Homo sapiens: one gene and its partner. The protein of the gene in region 1 purifies or fractionates together with the protein of each later gene. This does not show direct contact. Each region holds a gene or a part of one and is shown on either strand. Other genes may lie near its edges.

What was found. The genes of interacting proteins can lie anywhere in the genome.
Region 2: the proteins of SLC38A10 (region 1) and XPOT purify together in Homo sapiens (affinity purification with mass spectrometry; one large-scale study listed by BioGRID and IntAct). This does not show direct contact.

What each region holds. Positions count from the first base shown.
Region 1 is NC_000017.11:81,288,808-81,292,307, forward strand, and holds part of SLC38A10 (solute carrier family 38 member 10), read right to left. Parts: intron 1,002-3,500; coding exon 884-1,001; coding exon of another isoform or gene 863-883; intron 1-862. UniProt on the Homo sapiens protein: Facilitates bidirectional transport of amino acids. May act as a glutamate sensor that regulates glutamate-glutamine cycle and mTOR signaling in the brain. The transport mechanism remains to be elucidated.
Region 2 is NC_000012.12:64,428,392-64,431,891, reverse strand, and holds part of XPOT (exportin-T), read right to left. Parts: intron 1,844-3,500; coding exon 1,605-1,843; intron 355-1,604; coding exon 69-354; intron 1-68. UniProt on the Homo sapiens protein: Mediates the nuclear export of aminoacylated tRNAs. In the nucleus binds to tRNA and to the GTPase Ran in its active GTP-bound form. Docking of this trimeric complex to the nuclear pore complex (NPC) is mediated through binding to nucleoporins.

The sequences.
Region 1 (3,500 bases):
AGAACAGCAAGGCTCTCTGCAGGCAGCTCCGCAGGAAGGCATCTGGTGTCCAGGAGAGACACAGAGAGAGCAGGTCTGCACCAGCACGGTGAGGACGGCTGTCTTGGTCTGAGTTTAGAAGAGGAAGCTTGTGTGGACCTGCATGGGAGCGGGCAGGAGGGCATGGTGACAGGGAGACCTGGCGCCTCATACCCTTCTGTGTCACTCCAATTTTGAAGCATGTGATTATAACAGGTTTTTCTTTTTTTTTCCAGACAGAGTCTCACTCTGGCACCAAGGCTCGAGTGCAGTGGCGTGATCTCAGCTCACTGCAGCCTCCACCTATCGGGTTCAAGAGATTCTCTGGCCTCAGCCTCCTGAGTAGCTAGGATTACAGATGCCTGCCACCATGTCTGGCTAATTTTTTGTATTTCTGGTAGAGATGGGGTTTCACCATGTTGTCCAGGCTCGTCTCGAACTCCTGACCTCAAATAATCCGCCTGCCTCGGCCTGCCAAAGTGCTGGGATTACAGGCACGAGCCACCACGCCCGGCAGGTTTTTTTTTTAACTGCATTTTTTTTTAATTTGATTTTTAATTCTTTTGAGACAGGGTCTCGCTCTGTCACCCAGGCTGGAATACAATGGCGTGATCACAGCTCACTGCCACCTCAGACTCCTAGGCTCAGGTGATCCTCCCACCTCAGCCTCCCAAATAGTAGCTGGGACGACAGGCACGTGCAACCACACCCGGCTCATTTTTTTGCAGCATTACATTTTAAAATAAAAAAAACCCTGCTATCCAAGGAATTCTTGAAGAATCAAGTAGAGTAAATAAATAAATAAATAAATGGAATAAGGCCCCCGCCCCAGGTCCAGAGCCACCTTGTGGAGAGGGCGCCTCACCCAGGCCGGCGTAGGTCCTCCGCTTGCTCAGGCTGGCCGACTTCACCAAGAACATGCACGACTGGTGCGTCATCCATGAGCAGAAGACCAAGAGCAGCGCCCCCAGGACGATGCCGCACTGCAGGGTGGAGACAGGAACACATGTTCACAGCAGCAGGTGCTCCCCAGAGGCCCTCACCCCACACACGCGGCTCATGAGGACCCTCTTCACCCCCAGGCCCCGCTCCATCCCAGTCTCCTGCCGAACGCGACACTTCCTAGCACTGAAAGGGCCATTTCCTTGCTGTGGTGGCCGCGCGCCTTGTCCAGGGATGAAGCTGTATGCGCAGAGCACAGGGGTGCCATCTCCTTCCCAGTCCCCACCTCAAGTCTTCATGGACAGCGGGGTGCTGCCAACTAATACCCCCTTGTTCTCTGCACACACCCTACATGCACCATCTTTAGCCACTTAAGTCCACAGCTACAAGTAATGAACACATTCTGGAAGAGATTAAAAATGCCATTTTCCCCGTTCTCATAAGTTAAATAGACACTTACTGTGTGACCTGGGGATTAACTGCACCCCTAGGTATTCACTTACCAAGAGGAATGAAAACGTGTTCATGAAAAACCTGTATGCCAATGTTTACAGCAGGTTTATCCACAACCCAAAAATGGAAAAACAACCCAAATGTCCTTCAACAAGCGAATGGATACAAACTGTGGTCCATTCGAATAAGGGAATATTAGTCAGCAGGAAAAAGGGATGACTACTGACACCCACCATGACACGGATGGGACTCAAACGCACCATGCTGAGCAGAGGAAGCTGGACTCTGAATGCTACAAACAGTGTCATTCTGTTTACAGGAAACTCAGAAAAGGCAAACTTTTAGGCCAGGGAACAGCTCAGTGTTGCCAGGGGCTGGGGGTGTGGAGATTTGGCTGATGACAAAGGGGCACATGGGGACCCTCTGGGGGATGAAGCTGTGTGTTCTGTTTGACTGTGGTGGTTACACAGCAAGCCCATGACCTGCACCCTAAAAAGAGTCAATCAGCCGGGCACGGTGGCTCACACCTGTAATCCCAGCACTTTGGGAGGCCGAGGTGGGCAGATCACGAGGTCAGGAGATCGAGACCCTCCTGGCCAACATGGTGAAATCCCATCTCTACTAAAAATACAAAAATTAGCTGAGCATGGTGGTGTGTGCCTGTAATCCCAGCTACTTGGGAGGCTGAGGCAGGAGAATCACTTGAACCAGGGAGTCAGAGGTTGCAGTTGAGCCGAGATTGCGCCACTGCACTCCAGCCTGGCGACCGAGCAAGACTCCGCCTCGAGAAAATAAAAAGAGAGTGAATCTTCCTGCATGTCCACTACCTCCATCGAGGTGACACTTAAAACACAAGGACCGCCACACTAGTGCGAGACGTCAGTCACGTGAACCTAGCTGGACGGTGAGGGGGGCGGGGGCGCTGCACTTTCCAGTCTGTTGTTCTGTAGACTTAAAACTGCTCAAACACATAAGTCCGGCTGGGCACACTGGCTCACAACTGTCATCCCAGCACTTTGGGAGGCCGAGGCAGGTGGATCATTTGAGGTCAGGAGTTCGAGACCAGCCTGGCCAACATGGTGAGACCCCCACCTCTACTGAAAACACACACAAAAAATTAGCCAGGCTTGGTGGTGGGCGCCTGTAATCCCAGTTACTTAGGAGGCTGAGGCAGGAGACTTGCTTGAATCTGGGAGGTGGAGGTTGCAGTGAGCTGAGATTGAACCATTGCACCCCAGCCTGGGTGACAGAGTAAGACTCCATCTCAAAAAAAAAAAAAAAAAGTAAGTCTATTAATACCAAAAACTCATGAGATATCACCAAGCACTCATCAGAATGGCTCCAGCGGAAAAGACACGATACCCAATGCTACCGGGGATGCGGGCCGGCATGTGCACCACTGCACCCACATGGCAGCTCCAGAGCGGAGCACACGCACCCTGGGGCCCGGCCACTCCACACAGGCACGCACCCAGCAGAAACCACCCCCTGCCAACGCCTGTCCAACTCCTCAGGGCATCACAAGAGCTCCCAATAGGAGACACCGTAAATGCCTCACAGGGGTAAACTACACACAGACACGCATGGCGGTGCAGCGGACACCAGAACGCAAGCCAGACACTCGCACTAGACACCTGCACAGCAGGACCCACCCACCTCAGTTCAAACCAGGCAGCACCACCGTGGCACACTAGGGGTCAGCAGTGTGCCCCGGGTAGGCCGCCACGGCCACAGAGTACGCTCCTTAATTTGGGAGCTAGTCACACGGGTTTGCTCGTCATATGAAAATTCATCAACAGCACATCTAAAGAAGTGTGTACACATTTTTGTATGTCAAACTTCAATGTTTATTATATATATAATCTATATAGATCTATATCTATATCTATCTAGATATAGATATAGATATATATTTTTGTTTGTTTGAGACAGAGTCTCACTCTGTTGCCCAGGCTGGAGTGCAGTGGCGCGATCTTGGCTCACTGCAAGCTCCACTCCCGGGTTCAAGCGATTCTCTTGCCTCAGACTCCCTAGTAGCTGGGACTACAGGCGCCTGACATCGCGCACAGCTAATTTCTGTATTTTTA
Region 2 (3,500 bases), on another chromosome or scaffold:
GAAACATGTCTGAAGATAAATACATCTGATCTTCAAGAGATTTTCAGAGCTCTGAAAGTTTGCGGTACCTTGAATTTGGCCGTAATCTGGTTGATAAGAGGAATGAACTCCTGGAGATCTTTTGCTTCACAATCTTTGAGCATATGTTCTGAAGCAGATGGAATGAACGGAAGAACTTCTTCCTCCAGGCAAATAATCATTCGATGAAGGAAAGTACGGACTCCACTTCTGAGAATATCCTTTTGTAAGGGACAACTGAGGGCTGGCAAGAATGTCTGTAAACAGTCCAGATAAACTTCGGAACAGCCACATTGTTTCACAGTCTGTTTGTTGCTGAAAGCTTTACTGGTTCGACTATATAAGCAAAAATCAGGCAATCAGATGCAACTTTATTCTTTAAAAGTGTTATGGAGTATTCAAAAGCAATGCACAACAAATTACAAAATTAACAAAACTAAATAACCAGACCTTTATTTTCCACATCACAATTACTTCCATCTTTAGCTAATATGGCTATTTGTAAACTACTGCTTCCAATGATCTTTCCAGAACAAAAGAGCTCAAATTAACTTAAATGAATGACATGTAGTTAATATAATCCTTCTAATGTGAGTCTACCTAAATGTTTTATTAAAATCCTATTGACTGGGCTGGGTATTGTGGCTCATGCTTCTAATTCCAGCACTTTGGGAGGCTAAGGCAGGCAAATCACTTGAGGCCAGGAGTTCAAGACCAGTCTGGACAACATGGTCAAAACCGGTCTTTACTAAAAATAGAAAAATTAGCTGGGTGTGGTAGCACATGCCTGCAATCCCAGCTACTTGGAGGCTGAGGCACAAGAATTGCTTGAGCCTGGGAGGCGGAGGTTGCACTGAGCTGAGATCACAACACTGCACTCCAGCCTGAGTGACAAAGCAAGACTGTGTCTCCCCCACAAAAAAAAGAAAAAAGAAAAAAAAGAGAAAAATCCTACTGACAAAGTGGACAGAAAAGAGAAAATAAATCCACTTATTATGACTAGGCCTGTACTAGGTAACCTGCAAACCACCCATTTAAATTTAGAAAACCATCTTCAGAATTCTTTATACAACCTCTCTAATATCTAGCTCTTGTTCTTAAATATATTATAGAACAATTTAACTTCTAAATTAGCAATCTTTACAACTTTCATGCTGTTGTTTGTCAACAAAAAGTATGGCTAGAGGCGGAAAAAACAGCTGCTTGGGTGATCTTCAGGACACAATACAACTGAAGAGAAACCTCACGCTCTTCTCTTTAAGGTAACCAAGACTAACCAAAGATGTCCCGTCCCAATATATATTTGGTATATTAACACTTCAGCTGATCCTCTTAAACACACAACCCATTTATATCAGAGAAGTCAGAGGAGTTAAAGATTTACAGTTGTCAAGGCAAAAATGTAAATGGTATGTAACCTATCCCCTTCTTCAACCAAATCTAACTGACTGGATTTGGAGGACAAAGATTTAGACAATTCTCTGGATTATCCAACTGTGGAAACACAAATGTGTGTGCCCACCAAACAAGTGGTTCTGTCTGTGTAGATACATGCACTTTATAATTTTAACTGTGATCACACTTACCTTGCAAATCCAACAGCATGGTTAAGACAGTCTGCTAGAGAGGCTTGCCTTTCTTCATCTTGTGCCAGCATCAACTTTTCTAACAGAATTTTAAACTTCTCCATTAGTGGAGTCAACAGATTCCTCATTAAGGCTTGTTTCCTTTCTGCCGGATATTCACTATTAACAATCAGCACTCCAGCTGTCTCATAAATAAAAAGTTGATCATCGCTGCTCAGTAAGGACTGGTGGCCATTCTCCTAGAATGAAATTCAGTCTTATTAAAGCTTTTATTTTTTGAGTTCCCTTCATTTAATGAGAAAAAGTGCATTAGGAACAGGAAATGTAATCTATCACACCAACTCATATGTCAAATACTTATAAAGACAAATTTTCTCCCAGGACCATAGAATGAAAAGAAAACTAAATTAGAGGTCAACAGATCACGGTTCTAATTCCAGCCCTGACAAGACTCTATAAATGATCATGTAAGATAATTATTAAAGTTAGCTTTCTAACTTGTTTTCTTTTGTAAAGATCTTATTTATATAAGATTGTTATGAGGCTAGGCTGCATGTGGTGGTTCATGCCTGTAATCCTAGCACTTTGGGAGGCCGAGGCCGGCAGATCACTTGAGGTCAGGAGTTCGTGACCAGCCTGGTCAACGTGGTGAAACCCTGTCTCTACTAAAAATACAAAAATTAGCTGGGTGTGGTGGCGCACCTGTAGTCCCAGCTACGCGGGAGGCTGAGGCAGGAGAACTGCTTGAACCTGAGAGGTAGAGTTGTAGTGAGTCAAGACCATGCCACTGCACTCCAGCCTGGGTGACAGAGCCAAGACTCTGTCTCAAAAAAAAAAAAAAAAGTACTAGAGTGCTATACTTCTTTTAAATAATTAAGTAACAACACACAGTAAAGCATTATTTTGCATGTGTCTGTAAGGGTGTTTCCAGGAAAGATTAGTCAGTCCAAGTAGACTATGTGGGGAAGACCTGCCCTCAGTGTTGGCGGGCACCATCCAATTGACCAGGGGCTCTGAGAGAACAAATACATAAGGCAAATTGGTCTCTCTCTGAAAGGTGGACAGACTTTTCTTCTGCGGCCTTGAACATCAGAAATTTGACTCTGCAAAAGTACATTACACACAGCATTAACTGTGTGTGTAAACACTGCATGTACACAAGAAAGGTCCTTTCTGTACATCTGCATCTGTGAAACATAAAATTTCTTGTGATCTCAGTTCTTTGGGTGACTGCATATGTTGTAGTGACCCATTGCCGTTTTTTATCAATTTCCTCAAGACTTAGGTTGTCTGTCATGGTTATTTCAGATGAGCGCAGTTATAAAGCAGAGTGGCACACAACTACTAACCATAGTGACATGCACTTACACATTTTGCTTTCTGATTTATGAATACAGTTTGTCTGCTCCTGTTTTACACATGTAACTGTCATTTTTATAACTGTTTATGCTTGCAAAAGCATGTTATTATTGCCTATTTTATTGTGTAAAGTGGCCTATGAAGTGCTGTCATGTTTTTACATGTTTCTCAAATACATTCCCTTTTAAAAATGTAAAGTAATATCTTTCAAATAATTTTTTAAAATTACTTTTTCCAGGATTATATTTTTAAGATTTTGATCTTTTAGAATTGTGGTTTTTAGGATTTCAGGATTTTAACACTTGGGATTATGGCCCAATCCCAACACCAAAATATTCAGATCGACTAGCACTTAATTTTTTTTTTTACCCTAAGCCTGAAATGACAGGGAAAACCTTCGATCTAACAGTAGCAGCTGCTAAGAATGGCTAATACAATTATAGGATTAAACAGAATAATTTAGAAGTTGAATTTTTTAAATTTTTATTTTCTTTTGGTTTTTAAAATTTTTAATATACTTTTCATTTTAACAGCAAG